Homo sapiens: one gene and its partners. The protein of the gene in region 1 purifies or fractionates together with the protein of each later gene. This does not show direct contact. Each region holds a gene or a part of one and is shown in the gene's direction. Other genes may lie near its edges.

Region 1 (3,449 bases):
TTCCCCTTTTGTTTGGGTTCAGGTCTCATCACACTTTGGGCACTTACTGTACAGGAGGGTAGTGCTCAGGACTTCACCAACAGCCCTGGGAAGGGAAGGGAGGTGCTGTCCTAACTCTGGTCTTACAAATGGACTCCAGCCCCTTTTCCAGATCTCCAGAGTCAGCCCTTAGTTCACAAGGGTGAACTTACCCTTCTCATTCACATGAAGACTTAGAATGCAATCAACAAACCCTTCAGGCGTGGCGTGTGGAGGCTGCTGAGTAATGGCAGAGTGGAGTAGTGCTCAGGCACCCCTCCCCCAATCCTCTATGTCCCCCACCCTTTGGAGTGGCGAGTTTCCATTTCTGCCCCATGAGACTGAGTCCAGCTCTCAGGCGCTCCATAAGTCCCTATTGAATGCATGGGTCCCATTGGAGCCATCCTCTGGACTCTCTCCTACCCTGGTAGCTCAGTGTGGCACCCTAGGCACCCAGGAGGTGATGGAATGAATTCACTCTCAGCTCTTAAATTCCATCCAGCGCTGGGATTTCACAGGCGGGCCCTGACCTTGCGGGCATATCAGACTGGGCGTGAGGGGATTGGAGAATTGCATGTTTTTTAAAAAGACTATTCAGTATTATGGAATAGTGTCTAGCACTTAGTAGGAGCTCAGTAGATTAAAAAAAAAATTATAGACAGGGTCTTGCTTTATCGCCTAGGCTTGTCTCAAACTCCTGGCTTCAAGCAATCCTGCCTCACTCGGCCTCCCAGAGTGATGGGATTACAAGCGTGAGCCACCACACCCAGCCTCAATAGATTTTTGTTTAATGGGTTACTGTTATGACCTTTTATTTGGAAAATGCTGCATCCCCCAGAAAAAAACAAATCAACATTATTGGTGTTTTTGGAACTATATAGCTTTTTGGTTGGAGCAGGGATTGTTATGAGGCATGAGTGAGGGGGCAGACTCCTCTGAGGCCTCTTTAATTTTTAAAACAGACTTATTTATTCTCTAAGGGCTTGTTGAGGATTTACTGGGCACCCAGCTCCATGTGCAAGACTTTTCCCAACACAGCCTTGGCCAGGCAGATGGTGTGTCAGGGCCACAGGTTTCCGTAGCCTCTTGGGTGATAGAAAGGGGCCCAGGCCCTGGGCTGGGGCTCAGAAGGGACTCAAAGGAGGCCCTTGCCCTTATGGGACTCAGCCTGATTGGAGAACAGACAAGGAGATTTGGGATTACAGCGCAGGAGGTGGGGTGGTGAGGAAAGCAGGCTGCTGGCCGGGCCCCAGGAGTGGCCTAACCAGCTTGGAGGTGGGGGTGGGGAAGCCTCTTAAGGCTGACTCTGGCTTTGGCCCCCAACAGAGTAAATCAAGGAATGACTCCAGGACTGATGGTAAGGACACCAGTCACGTCCTCCCTTGACTGAAGGCAGTAAGGGCAGTAGGTGAAATCAGAGGCTTTGGGGTCCTGCCAGGGGAACCTGAACATGCTACTTCTGGGCCTCAGTTTCACTGTCTCTGAAATGAGACCACAGTAGGATCAAGTGACAGTAGGATGAATCAGTAAAGGTGTTGAGTCATTGTTGACCACTTCGCACGTCCCTGCGGGATGTGGATGAGTACCCTACCTTCTGTCACTTATCAACCCCTATGAGTGGGGGGTGAATAGCCCCATTTTACAGGTGGGAAAATGGAGGCTCAGAGAAGCCAGACAACTTGCTCAGAGTTGCACAGTGGGAAGCAGCAGAGCTCCGTCAGGTCCCGGCCTTTGGACCCTGGCTGTGTGTTTGACGGAGGCCTGGCTTTCCTGGGATCATGGGATTCTTTCAGGGTTTGGGGTATGCGGGGAGGGATTCCCATCACTGCCAGCCGTTGTCCCACGGCTCACTCGGCCTTTCTGGCGTTCTCTCCCCAGGCGAGAAGCCCTTCTCCTGTCCCCACTGCAGCCGTGCCTTCGCTGACCGCTCCAACCTGCGGGCCCACCTCCAGACCCACTCAGATGTCAAGAAGTACCAGTGCCAGGCGTGTGCTCGGACCTTCTCCCGAATGTCCCTGCTCCACAAGCACCAAGAGTCCGGCTGCTCAGGATGTCCCCGCTGACCCTCGAGGCTCCCTCTTCCTCTCCATACCTGCCCCTGCCTGACAGCCTTCCCCAGCTCCAGCAGGAAGGACCCCACATCCTTCTCACTGCCATGGAATTCCCTCCTGAGTGCCCCACTTCTGGCCACATCAGCCCCACAGGACTTTGATGAAGACCATTTTCTGGTTCTGTGTCCTCTGCCTGGGCTCTGGAAGAGGCCTTCCCATGGCCATTTCTGTGGAGGGAGGGCAGCTGGCCCCCAGCCCTGGGGGATTCCTGAGCTGGCCTGTCTGCGTGGGTTTTTGTATCCAGAGCTGTTTGGATACAGCTGCTTTGAGCTACAGGACAAAGGCTGACAGACTCACTGGGAAGCTCCCACCCCACTCAGGGGACCCCACTCCCCTCACACACACCCCCCCACAAGGAACCCTCAGGCCACCCTCCACGAGGTGTGACTAACTATGCAATAATCCACCCCCAGGTGCAGCCCCAGGGCCTGCGGAGGCGGTGGCAGACTAGAGTCTGAGATGCCCCGAGCCCAGGCAGCTATTTCAGCCTCCTGTTTGGTGGGGTGGCACCTGTTTCCCGGGCAATTTAACAATGTCTGAAAAGGGACTGTGAGTAATGGCTGTCACTTGTCGGGGGCCCAAGTGGGGTGCTCTGGTCTGACCGATGTGTCTCCCAGAACTATTCTGGGGGCCCGACAGGTGGGCCTGGGAGGAAGATGTTTACATTTTTAAAGGTACACTGGTATTTATATTTCAAACATTTTGTATCAAGGAAACGTTTTGTATAGTTATATGTACAGTTTATTGATATTCAATAAAGCAGTTAATTTATATATTAAAAAGTCTTTGGTGTCATAGAGGAGTGGGTATTTTGAAAGGTCTTTGGTAAGGGAGGAGGGGACAGGAATTCCTGAAGCTTAGATATTTCTGACACAGCCTTAAATCTTGTCCTTGGAAACATCATAGGGCTTTGGAGTCCTGGGTGTCACTGTCAGGGACCTTATGAGACTGGGTTTTCCCGTTGGCCTGGGTGTCCTGTCTGCTGCTGTTTGGGTGAGCCAGCGGCATCCATACGAGCTCTTCACTATACACTGTGGCTTTTTACTTTCTCGTTCTTGAATTTTGAAGTTGATCTGGCCCACGGAGTGCAAAGCTGGCTTCCTGGGTCTTATCAACTAGACAGGCTGCAAAGCTCTGCCCCAGCACTGCAGGTCTTTTGGGGTGGGATTGTCCGCTTCCCCCAGATGCGAGTGGAATGCGACCAAGGAGACAGAGGATGTCCTTCCTGTTTCCAAGGGCTCCAGGCCCCCTTGGGCCTCCTTGTCAGTCCCACACCTCCGTCTTGCTGCTGGGTACCAAATGGCCTTTGATGCGAGGAAA
Region 2 (7,033 bases), on another chromosome or scaffold:
CAGAAAAGGGGGCGTGTGCCCTGGGCAAACAAGCCGTCTGGGTAGGCGGCCAGCAGGGCAGAGGAGGGCGAGAGGTCTCAGGTCTTCGGCCTCCACCAAGCGCGACTCCCACTGCTCGGGAAGAAGAGGGGCTCTCGCCGCTCTGAGGCCACGAACAGATCCCCCAACCCGCTTCAGCCTCCTGTGGCCTCTGCCCTGAGATGGGAAAGGGGGGCCTGGAAGGGTAGGTACTGGGGAGGGGTCTTGAGCAAGGAGTGCTGCAGTAAGAGAGGAAAAGAGGAGAGAGACATCCACAATTAGTAGAAAGGAGTGAGCCGGCTGGTGGAGGGGGGCGGGGATGGAGCAAAGGACGTTAGTGCACAAATTGGTAAATCATACACAGACTCGAGAACACACGCCTATCCTCAAGGTCATGCCACAAGCAAAGAAGAGAGTCTGCACAGCCAGGGGTCCTCCGTCTTGCTCCTCCCACCCCAAATCTTCTTCTTAAAGGTGGCTAAACCCAGGCCCACCCACAAAATGCTCCAGGCCACCCCTTCCTCTCCACATGCCCGCCCATCCACGCACCTGCCAAGGCAGCCTGCAGAGCCCTGTACACTGCCACCTTCTGCTGGGGGTGCGCGTAGGCATCCGACAGGACCACCTTGTCCAGCGAGGACTCCACAAACAGGTATGCGCTGCCCACCCACTCTTCGTGCCCATTTTGCCCAGCTGCCATCTCACCTCCTGGAGATGCAGACAGTCAGGTATCCAGTTCATCCCCCCTCCCTCCACCCTGGAGACAACTACCCAGCCCCACGTGGTTCAGCTGTCCCCACCACAGTAGCCTCAAGTCCCACATGGTTCAGTTGTCCCCACCACTGGTTGGCATACTTGGGACAGGAGTTCACCATCTCACAGGAAGCCCCTTGAGCTCCTGGCTCTGTACAGAGTCCCACCCGCCCCAGGCTTGCAGTGAGGACTGTCCCTCCACTGCCTTCTTGGAGAAAGAGCCCAAGGTCACAGTGGAGGGGGAGCAGAGGCAGATCCTGCAATGGGGCTTCTCTGCTTCCTTCTCAGGCCTGTGTGTCTCTCTTACCAATGCGGACAAGAGACATCTTCATTCTGGATGGTGCCCATGCCCCAAAGCCAACCAGACCCATATCCTGGCCTTGCCTTCTGAGTAGACTTGAGCCCAGCATTTCTGGAGGACCTCAGCCTAAGACTAAACCTCCTGTCTTCACTTCGAAGGGCACCTGTAGTTTGCATCTACCCAGATTCTCTCCCCAAGCCTGACTTACCTTTGGGGACTTCCCTCCTCCCTCTTCTCAATCCATGTGCCTGTGTCCCACTCCCTAGTTCCAGGTCGGGCTTGTGTACCAGACCTGGCCAATCTGCATATTCCATTCACATTTCTGCAGTGATTAGTTCAGGGCGGGGTATAGGACTTAAGTTGGACCCATGAGAATCAACGCTGCGACTCTGGTTGAGCCAATAGGAAAGAGGCACTACTTTCCCTTCCCTTGGGGCTGAACTGGAAGGAAAAGGTAGCTCTCCTTTAGCACTGCTTGGGAAGAGCCTGGCTGGGAATGAAGCTGACACAGAAAGAAAGAGTCAAGAGATGGAGAAGTGCATTCCTAAGCATACTAGGCCCCTGGATCCAGCCGTCCCTGAAGCCATTGCACACTGGACTTTTCAGTTATGTGAGCTAAATAATTCCTTTTTGTTATAAAGCCCTTGGAGTTCGGCTCCAGTCATTTCCAACACAAATTGCTCTATTCCTTCCCTGTCCAGAAAAAGCCAGGGCCCCTTGGTGCTAGTATAGTATCTCCTTCCTCCATCTTCTGACAAAAACCTAGCTCTGGACCAGCGGGGGCAAAATTCCCAGCCAAGGAACCACTGCACTGACCTACAGCTCAATGGTCTCCCAGTTACTACCCCGTGAGACAGCAAGTAGAAAACTGCCTCCTCTTTCTCCCCACCTCACCCTTTTCCTACCCACCCTTTTCCTATAATCATGGGCTCAAGGCCCTACCTCCTGCCCCATCAGTCACACTCCTGTACTCTCATCAGGGTTTATATATGGTGGGCTAAGAGGAGTGTTGAGTGTTAGCTATGGGGCAGGACAGATGGGGTGGCCCAGCTGCCATCTGTTTACATGAGGAACAGGAAGCTGTCCTCCTGCCCTGGCCTCCCAAAGTGCTGCGATTACAGGAGTAAGGCACTACTCTCGACCTTTGTTTTTTCAATTGTCTTGTTTTTGAGACAGGGTCTTGCTCTGTCACCCAGGCTGGAGTGCAGTGGCACTATCGCAGCTCACTGCAGCCTTGACCTTCCCAGCTCAAGCAACCCTCTCACCTCAACCTTTCAAGTAGCTGGGACTTTAGGCACACGCCGCCATGCCTGGCTAGTTTTTGTATTTTTAGTAGAGATGGAGTTTCACCATGTTGCCCAGGCTGGTCTCAAACTCCTGGGCTCAAGCGATCTGCCCACCTCAGCTTCCCAAAGTGCTGGGTTACAGGTGTGAGGCACCACACCCAGCCTTCTAATCTTTTCATAGAAAACATTAATACTTGTGTACTTACGCCAAACCACAGTCTGGATAGTAACAGGAAGTTTGCATTTTGTTTATCTCTGGGCAGGATGAAGGAAGGTAGGTGGGGGTGGGGAAGGATTGTGGGTGATTTTTATTTTCTTTGTATTTAGCAATATTTTCTGCTTTATGTGAAGTAGACATATTTTCTTTGTATTAAAAGAGCAAAATAAATTTGTTTTCTTTAAAAGCAAAACAAGAAAAAACAGGAAACTCTGCAGGTGACAAGTGGGTCCATAATAGGGAGCCAGCCACGGAGGTGAGATAAGGGGGGAGTCCTTCGAAAGTGGCCTGGGGAGTAGGAGAGAGTGGGAACTTCCCCTGGAAACATTCCCTCTTTCATGTCTTTCTGGCCCCTTGACTTGAGAGTGCTTGACTTGGTTATGGTCCCACCCCAAGGGGTGGAAGTGGGGACCGAACAGGACCATTGTCTGCCCATCAGGTCTGTGGGGGTCGAGGGGGAGGTGGGGAGTACTGGGAACCTGGAGACTGGGGATGCTTTCTCACACTCACTAGTACTAGAAGATGGGGAAGGTGAACCAGGCTGGAGGTCGAGTTAACAGGGTAAAGAGGCCAGGGCCCTAGTTTCGCATCCGCCGACTGGCAGCTCTTCTTACGTGTTCTTTCACGGAAGCCCCTCCTTGGGAAGCCCCGCGCCCCACCCACCAGGAGTCGTCCCTTTTTGGGCGGGGCTGAGGCTTCCAGGCTGGGTCCTGAGAAAGTTTGGTGGCCGGAGACTGTGGGGCGCTTAGGTACCGACCTAACAACTTCTGCGCCTGTTTCCAGGGACGAGCCACGCACGGTGCCCCCTGAACACCTAACAGTCCCGGGGGCAGCCCCACCTCTGGCTGGGTGGACAGAGACAGCCTGTGGGCGTGGCCCAGAACTGAAAGCCTGTGACTCCTTGCGACCCGCCGGGCACACCCCCTACTCAGCTACGCAGCTCCCGAGCGCTTGAGGGGAGCTTCCCAGGCTCCCACTAGCCCACCCTCAAGCTGGGGTTTCGCACGTGCGATCGGCTGGGGTGGGCAAGGGGGTCTCCGCTCAAGGAAAGTATTCAGAACCAGCCCCTTCTCCCCCACCCTCTCTCCTGCAGGGCCCTACTGCACCTCGAAAGTGCTGGCAGGGACGAGGAGCCTGCGGGGGCCAAATTCCGTACCGTCCCCCGCCTCCCACGGTGTTCGAACAGCTCAGTAGACCGCCGCCACCAGCTGGCTGGAGCAGCCGCCGGTGACATCTGCGCCGCGCCCACGCTTCGGAGCCAAGATCCACCTCCTCTCCCGCCCGCACCGGGGAGCCCACCCACCCACCTGCTGCACTAACCTGGCCGCCTCGGCGGGGCCTGGGTTCCCACGCCCGCCAGGCTCCGCTCTACTCCGCCGCTTCCGGGTGTGCGCGGAGGCGCTGGGGCGGTGCCCTAGCCCGAGCCGCCCCGTCCGCCCGCGCGTCCCGCCCCGCGGGCTCCCGGTGGCTGCTTCCCGTCCGCTGTCCTCTGCTGCCAGTCCCCTGCCCCGGGCAAAGCCCATCTGGTCCGCCGAGCAGGTAAGACACCAGCGCCCAAGGTTAGACGGCAGGAAGACCCGACTTTGGGGGTTTGCGATTCTTACGAGGCGGGGGGCTCGTAAGAGCTACAGCTGCCAGACTTCGGTAAATCAAGGGGGCGCCCCCTGGAGACCAGAATTTTCTGGTACCCCTGGGGATCCGGCTTCAAGATCGCTGCTACCAGTGGGCACTCAAAACGGGGTGCCCATGGGTCCCAGGTACAAGCCCGGCCGAACGTATCTGAAGCCCCAGGAAACACGTGGCACAAATTCCGGGAGAAACTGTTAGCCCGGAAGATATGGGAACATTAACTGGCGAGTAGTGTGAAGCCTTGTGTACACAAACCTTTAAGAACCTTAAAACAAGATTGGCGGCCGGGCGCGGTGGCTCACGCCTGTAATCCCAGCACTTTGGAAGGCCGAGGCAGGTGGATCACCTGAGGTCAGGAGTTTGAGACCAGCCTGGCCAATATGGTGAAACCCCGTCTCTACTAAAAATACAAAAATTAGCCCGGCGAGGTGGCGCGCGCCTGGAGTCCCAGCTACTCGGGAGGCTGAGGCAGAAGAATCGCTTGAACCCGCGAGGCGGAGTTTGCAGTGAGCCGAGATCTCGCCACTGCACTCCAGCCTGGGCGACACAGCTAGATTCCGTCTCAAAACAAAACAAAACAAAAACAAACAGGATTGGCAACTTCAAAGAGGACGCACACTTTCCAGTAACCCATCCCCCTCTAAAGGCTGCGCTCCAGGGTGGGTCTGCGGAGTTCCAGCCGAACCCAAATTGCTCAGCGGGAGCCAGGGCTGCTCAGGGGTCGGAACTTAAATCTTGAGCCCCTCAGGCCCCAGAACCGTCAGGTCCCAGAGACCCAAGTTTTTTTTCATCCAGTGGGGCTGTCTTAGGAAGCACCCGGGACATCTCCCCGGCGAGGCGGAGGCGGGGAAGGAGCCTCCCCTCCAGGGGTGGATCCAGCTTTGCCCCGCCCACGCCTCGCTTCCTGATTGGCTCATGGTCCCTGACAAAGAAAAGCCTACATTAACGCTCCCGCCTTATTAACCCTGTAGTCACTTTCTACTAACCGGCGGGGTTAAGATGGGGTTTCTCAGGCCGGGCGCGGTGGCTCATGCCCGTAATCCCAGCACTTTGGGAGGCCCAGGCGGGCCGATCGCTTGAGCCTAGGAGTTCGAGGTCAGTCTGGGCAACAAAGCGAGACCTCGTCTCTGCAACAAAATTACAAAAATTAGCCAGGCGTGGTGGCGTGCCCCTGTAGTCCCAGCTACTCGGGAGGCTGAGGTGGGAGGATTGCTTGAGCCCGGGAGACTGAGGGTGCAGTGAGTTGTGATTGCGCCACTGCACTCCAGCCTGGGTAAAGAGCGAGACCCTGTCTCAAAAAAAAAGAAAAAAAAAAAAAAAAGTGGGAGGGGAGTTCTCAACGTGGAACCTGTGGAGTCACAGGGGCTTGTTGAAATGCAGATTCCTGGGCCTTACCCTTTCCGGAGAGCCTGATTTAGTAGGTGAGGCGGTGAAATCTGCTTTGTGAACAAGTTTCGGGGTTATCTGATGCCCCACGCTGTCTGAGAGGCCCTCAGTTCCTCAGGCCACAAGCATTTGTACACCTAAGCTCGGTCTTCCTGCAACACTTTGCGCCTTCCCGACCTCAGAGACGTCCGTCTCTCTCCAGGCCGGAGCTATTGGGAGTGGCGGATCCTCCCACCCCAGCCGGATCTGGGCCATGGCCGAGCCTGGAGAGGGACTGCCAGAGGAGGTGCTGGCACTCATCTTCCGCCACCTGTCCCTGAGAGACCGTGCTGCCGCCGCCAGGGTCTGCAGGGCCTGGGCCGCCGCTGCTACCTGCAGCGCCGTGTGGCACGACACAAAAATCAGGTGAGCCTGCTCCTCCACACTCCTCTCCCCACCGCCCACTCACCTTCTCCGTGGAGTCGTGGGCTAGGTAGATATTCAGGTTGACTCCCCCATATTAAAAAATAATTGCTGGCCGGGCGTGGTGGCTCATGCCTGTAATCCCAGCACTTTGGCAGGCCGAGGCGGGTGGATCACCTGAGGTCAGGAGTTTGAGACCAGCCTGGCCACCATGCTGAAACCCCGTCTCTACTAAAATACAAAAACTAGCCGGGCATGGTGGTGGGCGCCTATAATTCTAGCTACTCGGGAGGCTGAGGCACAAGAATCGCTTGAACCCGGGAGGCAAAGGTTGCAGTGAGCCGAGATGGCACCACTGCACTCCAGCTTGGCGACAGAGTAACAGTTTATCTCAAAATAATAATAATAATTGCTGACGTATTGACTGCCTAGTATATACCAACCATTGTTTTTAAGTGCCTTACATATATTAACTAATTTAATCCTTATGAAAACCTTGTGTGGTAGATAGGTATTATCATTACCTCCATTGCCCAGATAGGAAACTGAGGCAAAGAGACTTAATCACTTCCCACGGGTCACTCAGCTAGGGAATGGCAGAGGCAGAATTCGAACCTAGCAGTCCGGAGGCCATGCCAAGACTCCTTAGAGACAGCTGAGAAAGCCCAGTTCCTAAAATATCATTGGCTCTCCATGTCCAGGTTTCATCCTGTGGCAGACGCCACTGAAATCTTCTAAAAGGATAGGATGCGAGTTCCCTCCTTTGGGGCAACAGTCGTGGTCTGAACAGAGACGTGGGGAGGGAGGCAGGAAATGGGATGGCAGCTGGAACCCCAGCTAAGGGGTGGGTAGAGGCTTCTCCGCTGGTCGCAGGGACTCAGCTGAGGCCTTTTCTGCACGGCTCTAACCCAAGTTGCGAATGTGAGCTGGAAGGCATGCTGCCACCTTATCTGTCCGCCTGCCTCGACCACATTCACAACCTACGGCTGGAATTTGAGCCATCGAGGAAGCCGAGCCGCCGGGCGGCCATCGAGCTGCTGA
Region 3 (7,042 bases), on another chromosome or scaffold:
TTGTGGACATACACAGTCTAGTTTCCATCTTTATATCCAACCCCATACCACCTATCATGATACCTTTGCCTTGAGAAGGTATTCCACAAATGATTATTTTATGGAATCTATTCAAAGTTGACCTGAAATAACTGAGAATTTGAACAAAAAGAATTTTCTGATGTACTCTTTTACATGTGTTTGGTTTTTTACTAAATCAAGGAAATGTTGGTTACCTTAAAACATAGAGAAAAGATTCAGATTCACAGGTCAAATAGACGTTATTACCATCTATGAATTATAAAGTGAGAAGCATAGTAAATATTTACATTTTATTCTTCAGATAAATCCTATATAAATGTAATTATATATGACATTCTATGCTCTAATTAGGATGAAATGTTATGTTGTTTTGCTGGAGAAACTTTGTATGTATTCTTTGTATTTTAAATCATAATAATATTGTAAACTTTTCATATTAGCAGACATTTGTATAATTACTTCTCTCTTTCTTTGCCTGTGTGCCCAGCTATCAATATCATGAAATTCCTGTGCTTCTTTTTTTCTCTATTTTATAGCTTCTCTATCCTTAACAGTTACCAAAGAGAATTTGGACAGTAACCTGAAACATTAGATCTCACATTTTCTAGTCAGTCATCTGAATAGGTGTCAGTCATCTGACTCATTTCATCACTATGAATTTTGCTGGCCAAACTATATGTAGCATTTTTGTCTTCAGTAAACTTGATAGTTGCAGTCAGAAAAGATGTAGATTTAGTCTGTATCATAGAACCTGCTGCTGATTATTTGAGAAGTGAAGGTGTTTATTCAGATACATTAGTGTGATATGAATTTCTGTAATTTCTGTGATTTGCAAAAAGAAGTGAGTCTCTGTATTTCCCTGTTACAGGATTAGACACATGTTAAACCAAACAAAAAAAAGGAGTGAGTAGATGGAGAGCCAGCAGTTGTTTCTTAAAAGGTTATACAGTAGGTTCTGTAAATCCATGTGTTGGTATGGCCACAGCAGGATAAAGCTCCTTTAGTAAGCGTGTTGACCCAATTAATGTCCCTTACTTCATCCATTTTTATTTTTCACTGAATAATATGTTTCCTAAATTAGATAATTTTAGAACAATTGCAGTATAAAAGAACTGATTTGAAAGTTTTAAAACTGTTTTTAAACACTGTTACCCAGTAATTTTCTTACATATAACTTCTTAGTATAATAGAAGTTCAGAAAAATAGCACTATGGGTGAAAAGCAGCCGCAGAAGGAGCCCATGGAAAGGAGTAATTGAATCAGGACTTAAAAATGACCTAGGTTTTGTGGGCATCTCAGGGTGGGTAAAATGGCTTGAGCAGAGGTATGAGTAAGTTTTTAATAAAAGAGCAAATATCTTGCAGTGTCTAAAGACCATAGATCCTAAATACATACTTATTTCCCTTTACTTATCCTATGAGGAGTAAAACACTGAGACTCAGTGATCCTCTCAACTGACCACCTCATTTTGCCAGTGAGGAAAGTGACTTGCCTAAGACAGTATATAGAATGGAAAGAATTTACCCAGAATCACTTACTGAATTAAATTAGAGGCAGAATTGTGACAGAAACCCAGGCCTTCTGTGTCATAGTCTAACATTCTTGACAGCACAGTGCCATGCTACATAGCATAAATTACAGCGTTGAAAGTAAAAATGGGCCTCGTTGCCCAAGGTGTCAGCAAAATGTGTTGCCAGTTAAGTAAACTATTTGGTTTGTGTATAGTAAAGAAACCTATTGTATTCCTAAATGAAACTTGGATCCCTAAGTCATTGTTACCAAGGCAGGTACTGGAGAGGGCATATTAGAGCTAAAGAAATGCTGACCTGAAAGCCATTCTGCATAGCAGTGGGGCACTTCAGGCTGGTACACAATGTTAAGAGCATTTCCCAAAGTAAAAGTCTCTTGAGAGAAGCACATATCACACTCTTTGAAATTCTGGCCCTGAGCCTAGATCACAGCAAAATAGGTTCAGTTCAAAAGGGCCTCTTTTCTCTTAACCTCCACTCAATATATAGAATGGAAACCAAAGTGAAGAATATTCTTGCTCCTCTCAAATCGAAAGCCAGCCCACTAGACCCAAGAGTTAGCGAGTATTACTCTCAAGAAAGTGTCTATATCTCATGTGAAAACTAAGATAGAAACAATAATTTTGTTTCTCCTTTAATTTATGAGAAATGACAGAATGACACTCAGCTTGAACAAATTAGACCCTTTCAGTGAAAGGGTAATCAGATCCTTATGATTTTAATCCTTTGAGCTATCCTTGGAGCAGCTTAAGTACACCCAAGCCCCCAGAAGGATCCTCTCCATGCCGTGAAATGTGCTCAGTAATGGAAGAGCGCTGATGGTTTTTATTACCACTCTTCCATTAAGTAGAATTTCTCTGTTACCTTTCAGAGACTGAACAGTTTCATTGAATTGCTTTAATGTTTCTTATTTTGTGCTCTGAGAATCTGTACCAAGGGGCAGTGTGTTAATGCACCTATGTGGTGCTGTCCTCTGCCCTTACATAATTAGCTTGATTTGGACTGCTCTGGCAAAGAAGAGAAAAGATTACCAGTCTGAGGAGAGTCAAGACTTTGGAGGAGAGGGATCTTTGTACCATGGTAATGGGAGCCAAGCGTCTCCACTTTACCCATCTAACTGGCAGATATTGAGACGTATAGCTTAGGTAACTGATCTCATGTAACTGCAGTTAAGTTGGAGATTGAATAAGATAGGATGATAATGTCCTAAGTCTTTATGCTGTCATCTGTGGACTTATGTTTATATCTGTTATGCCTTGTGCATGTTGGGATTGTGTGTCATTAAGTTTTGTTTTCCTGCAGCAGCCCAGTAACAGTTAAAGCATATGGGAAGCCAGCAAATTTGAGAGAAAGCCACTGCGAAATATGGCTAAGATTCCTTCTGGAACCAGCCTTTCTTGTTCATACATTAGTTTCCATTGAAATCCCCTAGGAACTGGCTCGAGGTAGAGCTTTGCATGTTGAAACTTGGGACTTTCGATTGATAATTTTGTTGTTCATTTTCAAATTATTCTGGGAAACTTTGCTTTCTTTTGTTAGGAAGAAAAATACAAGTAGAAATTAAGTGCTCTGAAATTACATAGCTTTTCAGTGTCTTTCTTGCTCAGCTGCCATTGGCAGGTGGTTCACACAGCCCAGCCCCCTTACTAGGCGGCCACCGTTATGAATACAGGAGCTCGGGTGTCAGATTTCCCTCTTAAGCTGTGAACTGCTTAGCTTTTCTACTGGGCACCAAGTCATTTTTGTGTTCAAAGATTTAAAAAACTAGTGGAGGCTGGGCACGGTGGCTCAAGCCTGTAATCCCAGCACTTTGGGAGGCCAAGGCAGGTGGATCACCTGAGGTCAGGAGTTCAAGACCAGCCTGGCCAACATGGCGAAACCCCGTCTCTACTAAAAAAATACAGAAAATTAGCCAGGCATGGTGGTGGGCACCTGTAATCCCAGTGACTTGGGAGGCTGAGGCAGGAGAATTGCTTGAACCTGGGAGACAGAGGTTGCAGTGAGCTGAGATCGTGCCACTGTACTCCACCCTGGGCAACAGAGAGGGACTCCCTCTCAGAAAAAAAAAAAAAAAAAAAAAAAAAAGCTAGTGGTGACAAGAGTAGGAAAGATACATTCTGTCTAGCTTTAAACAATTGTTTATAGGAATGAAATCTAGGTATTATGTTTGCATGTTTTTCATGTTATAAAGGTCCTGGGATCTTAAGATTTCACTAGCAGTTTCTTCATTTCTCACTTCCTGCCATTTTACCACCTTTGTTATGGAAAATTTTGAACATTATGCCAACACACTTAAAATTAATATTCACAATGCTTTCAACTTCAAATTCATTTTAGAAACGACAGCCAAAGCATCTTGAGTTATTGACTTTATTCTTAAAGATCATTGTGGAATATATTTTGCAATGATCTTGTGAGGCTTTTTTATTTTTAATGGCTTATTGGTGAATTAATTTTAGGCTTTGTTATTCTTTTGTATCTCACATAATCGTTTGCTTTCTAATTTTTAGAGCCTGGTTATTTCTGATTTCTCGGTCTCATGTGTTTGTTTGTTTATTTTTCCTGTGTCTAAAGAAAATCTAAAAGACCCCAAAGATAGGCTGCCTCTCTTAAGTAAATAGAAGTACCAATGGAATATCATAATTATTGCTCATAGCAGTTACATTTCTGCTTAAAATTCTTATTGTCCACTCTGCAAATTTATATTGCATAATCTTATCTCAGGGAGCATTTTACATGCATAACCAACAAAAGTGACTGAAAAAAAACTACTCTTTCTCAATTCCCACTGCAATCACTTTCACAACTGTATACTGTTGACTATTCAAAACACAAGGCTAAGAAATGGCTTCAAATTCTCCATTAGGGAAATTTACGTAACTTTGTTTTAAGGTTTCTAATTGCACAGTAGTTGTATACCTGAGAGAAGTGAATACTTTACCTGCTTAAGCTCTGTGAAAGTTGGATTCCAATGAAAAGATGAATACATTTCCCTCACAGACTCACCTGGACTGATTCCTGCTCACCCTATTCTTTCTTTAAAGAAGACATGATCATTGTCTTCAGGCACTATTATTTAATTTATCTTCTATTAAGAATTAACTGTTTTGTTCCTCTTGATTCACAGAAAGAAACAGAGGTAAAGGAACGGTCTGTTTTTGACATCCCTATATTTACAGAGGAATTCTTGAACCATAGCAAAGGTGATTACTGAAGTTTCTTTTTGTGTTTCTCAGATTTTTGACAGGGGACTTAGTTCTCAGAAGAAATTCATTGCTCAAAAGCAATGGTAGTGTTATCCCTCCTTAGGACTACTCAAAGACCAGTGAAGGAAAGCTAGGGCATTGTTGTCAAAGCTTCTTTGGTCTCTGGATGAAAGGAAATAAATGCAAATCACAAATTCACTTGTCTTCAAACTCTTAGCCTGGAACCCCTTGCACAAATAAAAACTTACATGGGAGTCCAAAATATAAAATAAGTAAGAGCAAGTCTGATCCCATTGTGGTAAAGATGGGTACCTACAGCTGTGCTTGGCCAGTCTCCCAGGATCCCCCTGCAAAACCCCTCAGGCTTCTGATTGTACAATTTAAAAAGCAAAAACTAACAAACAAAAAAATACTGGGAATTGAAACTGTTTGTTGCAATCTTATGTATGGAATGTGACTAGCTTTAAGAATTAAAATAGCTCTGGGGAGTCAGGCGTTTCATTGCTGAAATTGCTATCTGGAATGCCATAATGAGAATAGGGAGATGAGGTGGGGTAGCTAAATTAGAGGCAGCTAAGCAGAACTTCCCTGTAAGAGTCATTGGGACTCCTCAGAGACTCCTTCTAGTGCTGCATGTGTTCTGTGGGATGTATGTCCTCAGCTCGGGAAGCAGAGCTCCGCCAGCTTCGCAAATCCAACATGGAGTTTGAGGAGAGGAATGCAGCCCTGCAAAAGCACGTGGAGAGCATGCGCACAGCAGTGGAGAAGCTGGAGGTGGATGTGATCCAGGAGCGGAGCCGCAACACAGTCTTACAGCAGCACCTGGAGACCCTGCGGCAGGTGCTGACCAGCAGCTTTGCCAGCATGCCCTTGCCTGGTAAGTCCTCCTGCCTGAGAACTGTCAGTGACAGGGGTGTGTGTGTTGTGTGGAGTGGGGTGCTGTTTATGTTAGTACTGGTGTGGAGAGATTGAAATCTCCTCCAGAGGAAAATTAATTAAACTACATTTTTTCTTCTCTGGATATAATAGAATGTCAGTATTGGCTAAAATCGTCCAATGTTTCAGGCTCTCTGGTCATTCAAATTTTTGTCCATTTATATTTTAATATCTATTTTCCCCTCTTTTAAGCTTAATTTGCTATTCAGAACACTGGAAACTGAGTAGTAAATCTTGAGAGTGTTTCTTCTTATGTATGTTTGTTTGCTTTTTAGTTGTTTTTGTTTTAACGGGAAGGAAGGGAGAATGAACACTGGTATTTCTTATATACTCTTTCATTTTGAAGATAGTCATAGCAGAAAGCTGAGCGAGTCTAACCTTCTGTTACATGCAGCTGCTCATATATACTATACAGCAATTATATAGCCCATCTGTTTATTTAGAGTATGTGGACTAATTTCATTTCTTTGAGATCTAAAAGTCTCTCCTCTAAAATTAAAAGCATGTCTGTGGAGCAGACCACATTAGAATCACTGTTTCTTTGAAATTGTGTTTTATGGTACAACTGAATAGGGAGGATTTTCTTACTTTCTTCTTATCTCACTTCAGGAAGTGGAGAGACACCTACAGTGGACACCATTGACTCATATATGAACAGACTGCACAGTATTATTTTAGCTAATCCCCAAGACAATGAAAACTTCATAGCTACAGTTCGAGAAGTTGTGAACAGACTCGATCGTTAGGGAATGGTGAGTGCTCACTGATAAATATTTATATGCCAGCACATCATCAAAAATAAGATGTCATCAGACTTTATCAATACTACTAAAACCCTGGGATTACATTGGATGAACAAGTTGGAGACTTGGTTAAGATTCCTGTTGCATGGTTGTTAAATGTAGTAAATAATATTAGAAAAGAGAATCACTGTAGTCCCAGCTACTTGGGAGGCTGAGGTGGGAGGATTGCTTGAGCCCAGCAGTTCAAGTCCAGAGAGATCCTGTCTCTAAAAATAAAAGAAAACAGACTCAAGACAGTTTTTTCTTATGCTTGCTTCAGAATGGTTTAATGGGAAAAGCATGGTTTTTGTGGCTTGACCTCATTTCTAGCTTTGTCACTTATTAGCTGTATTCTTGGGCATTAGTTTCCCAAAAGGTTTTGAAAAGTGAGTGGGAAACTTAGAAGAAATCATCCCCAAAACAGCACTCAGAACAAAATAAATATAACTTAATTTTTAATCTTCCTTTTCTCTGGAAAATACTAATGATAATTTAGAAGTAGTCAGTGAGACATTGTATGTATGTGAGCCTACATAAGTAGGAAGCTTTTATATTCACCACTCAATAA
Region 4 (4,601 bases), on another chromosome or scaffold:
TTTTTGAGATGGAGTCTTGCTCTGTCACCCAGGCTGGAGTGCAGTGGTGCAATCTCGGCTCACTGCAACCTCCGCCTCCCGGGTTCAAGCAATTCTCCCTGCCTCGGCCTCCCAAGTAGCTGGGATTACAGGCACGTGCTACAACCCCTGGCTAATTTTTATATTTTTAGTAGAGACGGGGTTTCACCACGTTGGCCAGGCTGGTCTCAAACTCCTGACCTCAAACGATCCACTCGCCTCAGCCTCCCAAAGTGCTGGGATTACAGGCGTGAGCCACCACACCCGGCCAGAAATGCTTTCAAGCTTCCTAAATCAATAAGAAATAAGGCCAGGCACAGTGGCTCATGCCTGTAATCCCAACACTTTTGGACGTCGAGGTGGGTGGATCACTTGAGCCCAGGAGTTTGAGAACAGCCTGGGCAACATAGGGAGATCCCATCTCTAAAAAAAATAAAATGTAGCCAGGTGCGATGGTGGATGCCTGTGAGCCCAGCTACTCGGGAGGCTAAGGCAGGAGGATCACTTGAGCCTGGGAAGTCGGTGGTGCAGTAAGCTATGATCACACCACTGCACTCAACCATGATTGCACCACCACACTCCAGCCTGGGCAACAGAGTGAGAACCTGTCTCAAAAAAACAAACAAACCAATAAGGCCGGGCGCAGTGGCTCACACCTGTAATTGCAGCTCTTTGAGAAGCCAAAGTGGGCAGATTTGCTTGAGCCCAGGAGTTTGAGACCAGCCTGGGCAACATGGCGAAACCCTGTCTCTACAAAAAATACAAAATTTAGCCGGGCGTGCTGGCATGCACCTGTAATCCCAGCTACTCAGGAGGCTGAGGCAGGAGGATCACTTGAAGCTGGGAGGTTGAGGCTACAGTAAGCCATGATCGTGCCACTGCATTCCAGCCCGGGCAACAGAGTGAGACCTTATCTCAAAAAAAAAAAGAAAGAAAAAAACAAAAAAAATGCAACAACAAGAAGAGAGGTCTTTTCTGAGCAGAGTGGACACCTCAGGAGACACCCATCACACTCCAAGTGATGGAGGTGTGTTCATGTTAACAGTGGAAGAGGGGTGGGGGTGCTGCACCTCCAGACTCCGGCCCAGATCCTCTTACTGCCTTCTCTTTCTTCCCCTTCCCCATACCCAGAGAAGATCTTCTCTGAGGTGACGCCCAAGTGTGAAGACTGTCAGAGCCTGGTGAAGCCTGGTGAGCCTCTGGCCAGGGACCTGCCCAGGTGGATTTGGGTGGGGGTCCCCTCCTCCCCCTGACCCCCTCCCAAAGGCCACACCCGCACACATCTGGCCACCTCTGTCTCTCTGAACAGTGCCCCAGATCCATCCTGGGGAGAATGGGGTCTGTGCCCCTGGCCGGTCCCCACTGCTCCCAACTCCCACTGTGGCCTCCGGGTCTGCCATTGCTCCCACCTGTCCTCTCTGCCTCCCCATGTCACTGTCTCTGTCCGTCCATCTGTCTCCACCTCAGATATCGTCTTTTTTGGTGAGAGCCTCCCAGCGCGTTTCTTCTCCTGTATGCAGTCAGTAAGTGGCCCCCCAGCCTCCCCGCATCCCCAACCGCCGCCTCCACCTGTGCTGGGCCCCATGGGGGCAGCCTGGGCCCTGCCTCAGGAAAGGTCACCTCCCCAGCTATGGGGGGCGGCAGGGAGGTTTGCTGCTGGGGGCGGGGGAGGGAGCGGTGGCGCAGCCTGGGCGGAGGCTCCCAAGCTCACGCCCCTCCCCGCAGGACTTCCTGAAGGTGGACCTCCTCCTGGTCATGGGTACCTCCTTGCAGGTGCAGCCCTTTGCCTCCCTCATCAGCAAGTAGGTTGGGGGCTGTGGCTGGGAGGACGGCTGGGCACCCAGGGCCAGGACAGACCCTGACCCCTTAGCTCCCCCTCCCCACAGGGCACCCCTCTCCACCCCTCGCCTGCTCATCAACAAGGAGAAAGCTGGCCAGGTAAGAGCCCTTCTTCAAGCCCCCGTCGTCACAGGCTCCCCCTTCCCTCTCACCCTTTTCCTCAGAGGGAACCCCCACTGTGGAACCCCAGCACTTTGCATTCCTCAGCTCAGAACCTGGGGCTCTAGAATCCAGAGGGGTCGGGTTCCAGGCCTCTGGGACATTCACTGCCCTTTTGAGCAAGTGATAGAATTCCAACTCAAACCAGCTGAAGCCAGATAGGAAGGCCGGGCTTCCAGGGACTGAGGAGGTGGGAGGGGGTGCAGGGGTCAGGAGAGACAGTGCGGGGGGCGGGGTTGGGTCCACGCTCTGGGTCTCTCAGGTCTGTTTTTCCTGGGCAGCCTCACTCTAGGGCAGGTGCTCCCTCCTAGGTGTTCCCCTCAGGGGAAGTAGGCAGGGTCACCGGGCAAGCAGCGCACGCTGTGGGCAGACACTGTCCCAAGTCTTAGCCTGCGTGAACTCACTGGCGCCACAACCCCATCGCGGTTTTGTGATCACCCCTATTCTACAGGAAACTAAGACACAGAGAGGACAAGTCACTTGACCAAAGTCACTGAGCTGGCTGGGCGCAATGGCTCACGCCTGTAATTCCAGCACTTTGGGAGGCCGAGGCGGGTGGATCACCTGAGGTCAGGAGTTCGAGACCAGCCTGACCAACATGGTGAAACCCCGTCTCTACTAATAATACAAAATTAGCCGGGCATGGTGCTGGGCACCTGTCATCCAGGCTACTCGGGAGGTTGAGGCGGGAGAATCACTTGAACCCAGGAGGTGGAGGTTGCAGTGAGCCGAGATCACATCATTGCACTCCAGCCTGGGCAACAAGAGTGAAACTTTGTCTCAAAAAAAACCAAAAAAACAACAACAAAAAAAAAACAAAGTCACAGAGCTAGGATACAAACCCAGGCCACCTGGCTCCAGGGTCTGTGCTCTTAGCTCTCCCTTCCCTGCTCCTGCCCCTGACCCACCCCCTCCCTGACAGTCGGACCCTTTCCTGGGGATGATTATGGGCCTCGGAGGAGGCATGGACTTTGACTCCAAGAAGGCCTACAGGTGAGGCCCCGCCGGGGGTTGGGGCAGCCTGGAAGGGACAGGGTGAGGTGGGAGCGGGGGCACGAAGGCAGATGAGAGGAGCAGGCAGGGGCGAGCCCGCCTGGGAACTCTGATCTCCTGCTGCACCGCAGGGACGTGGCCTGGCTGGGTGAATGCGACCAGGGCTGCCTGGCCCTTGCTGAGCTCCTTGGATGGAAGGTGAGGAGCTGAGCAACCCCAGCCTGTCCTGAGCCCCATCCCTGGACCCTCTCCCCACCCCATGGGTCCTCTGACCCCATGATGCACAGTGACCTTTGACTTCTGTGACCTTTGCTCCTGCAGAAGGAGCTGGAGGACCTTGTCCGGAGGGAGCACGCCAGCATAGATGCCCAGTCGGGGGCGGGGGTCCCCAACCCCAGCACTTCAGCTTCCCCCAAGAAGTCCCCGCCACCTGCCAAGGACGAGGCCAGGACAACAGAGAGGGAGAAACCCCAGTGACAGCTGCATCTCCCAGGCGGGATGCCGAGCTCCTCAGGGACAGCTGAGCCCCAACCGGGCCTGGCCCCCTCTTAACCAGCAGTTCTTGTCTGGGGAGCTCAGAACATCCCCCAATCTCTTACAGCTCCCTCCCCAAAACTGGGGTCCCAGCAACCCTGGCCCCCAACCCCAGCAAATCTCTAACACCTCCTAGAGGCCAAGGCTTAAACAGGCATCTCTACCAGCCCCACTGTCTCTAACCACTCCTGGGCTAAGGAGTAACCTCCCTCATCTCTAACTGCCCCCACGGGGCCAGGGCTACCCCAGAACTTTTAACTCTTCCAGGACAGGGAGCTTCGGGCCCCCACTCTGTCTCCTGCCCCCGGGGGCCTGTGGCTAAGTAAACCATACCTAACCTACCCCAGTGTGGGTGTGGGCCTCTGAATATAACCCACACCCAGCGTAGGGGGAGTCTGAGCCGGGAGGGCTCCCGAGTCTCTGCCTTCAGCTCCCAAAGTGGGTGGTGGGCCCCCTTCACGTGGGACCCACTTCCCATGCTGGATGGGCAGAAGACATTGCTTATTGGAGACAAATTAAAAACAAAAACAACTAACAATCCGGTCTGGCCTCCTGTTTCTTTCTGTGGGCACCCAGGGAAATCTCTGAAGGGAGGGGGTTAGATCTTGGGCCACTAAGGAACCAGAAAGTCTCCGGGATCCAGAGTGAGGGGTAACAAGAGGGTCCTCACGGGGGCCCTCGTGGCTCTGACCCCTGGACTCCCAGCCTGCCAGTGTCCCTTCCTCTAAGCCCCGTCACTAAAGGCCTGAGGCCCCAGAAAGAGGGAGGAAAGTTGACTTCAGATACCCCAGCCCCGCCTCTTCCCCCTGCCTGCTCAGCTTCCTCTCTCCACTTCCTGCTACTGCAGGCCTCTCCTCCGAGAACAGGTAGGGCCCCCAGGAACCGAGCATCTGGCATCTTCAGCCCCTGCTGCCTCCCTTTGGTATGAGGCAGCTGCCCTGACCCACCCCTGCCACGCACTGCCCACAGCCTCCTCTCCTGCCACGGTACACAAGCAGGCATCTGCTTCCCTCTCCCCTCCCCTCCCCTCCCTTCCTTCCTGCTCTTGCCTGGGCAGG

The links.
Region 2: the proteins of SNAI1 (region 1) and FBXL8 purify together in Homo sapiens (affinity purification with mass spectrometry; 3 studies listed by BioGRID and IntAct, with this or other methods). This does not show direct contact.
Region 3: the proteins of SNAI1 (region 1) and HMG20A purify together in Homo sapiens (affinity purification with mass spectrometry; 4 studies listed by BioGRID and IntAct, with this or other methods). This does not show direct contact.
Region 4: the proteins of SNAI1 (region 1) and SIRT2 purify together in Homo sapiens (affinity purification with mass spectrometry; 3 studies listed by BioGRID and IntAct, with this or other methods). This does not show direct contact.

The regions. Positions count from the first base shown.
Region 1 is NC_000020.11:49,985,976-49,989,424, forward strand, and holds the end of SNAI1 (zinc finger protein SNAI1), read left to right. Parts: intron 1-1,896; coding exon 1,897-2,081; 3' UTR 2,082-2,911; downstream 2,912-3,449. UniProt on the Homo sapiens protein: Involved in induction of the epithelial to mesenchymal transition (EMT), formation and maintenance of embryonic mesoderm, growth arrest, survival and cell migration.
Region 2 is NC_000016.10:67,155,943-67,162,975, forward strand, and holds the start of FBXL8 (F-box/LRR-repeat protein 8), read left to right. Parts: upstream 1-4,014; 5' UTR 4,015-4,114; intron 4,115-5,792; 5' UTR 5,793-5,843; coding exon 5,844-5,995; intron 5,996-6,905; coding exon 6,906-7,033. Other genes in the region: TRADD (tumor necrosis factor receptor type 1-associated DEATH domain protein), read right to left, coding at 568-718. UniProt on the Homo sapiens protein: Substrate-recognition component of the SCF (SKP1-CUL1-F-box protein)-type E3 ubiquitin ligase complex.
Region 3 is NC_000015.10:77,472,878-77,479,919, forward strand, and holds part of HMG20A (high mobility group protein 20A), read left to right. Parts: intron 1-4,677; coding exon 4,678-4,753; intron 4,754-5,417; coding exon 5,418-5,633; intron 5,634-6,301; coding exon 6,302-6,438; 3' UTR 6,439-6,444; exon of another isoform or gene 6,445-7,042. UniProt on the Homo sapiens protein: Plays a role in neuronal differentiation as chromatin-associated protein. Acts as inhibitor of HMG20B. Overcomes the repressive effects of the neuronal silencer REST and induces the activation of neuronal-specific genes.
Region 4 is NC_000019.10:38,878,040-38,882,640, reverse strand, and holds the end of SIRT2 (NAD-dependent protein deacetylase sirtuin-2), read left to right. Parts: intron 1-1,149; coding exon 1,150-1,209; intron 1,210-1,485; coding exon 1,486-1,541; intron 1,542-1,743; coding exon 1,744-1,820; intron 1,821-1,904; coding exon 1,905-1,956; intron 1,957-2,467; coding exon of another isoform or gene 2,468-2,500; exon of another isoform or gene 2,501-2,938; coding exon 2,939-3,009; intron 3,010-3,140; coding exon 3,141-3,207; intron 3,208-3,330; coding exon 3,331-3,486; 3' UTR 3,487-4,081; downstream 4,082-4,601. UniProt on the Homo sapiens protein: NAD-dependent protein deacetylase, which deacetylates internal lysines on histone and alpha-tubulin as well as many other proteins such as key transcription factors.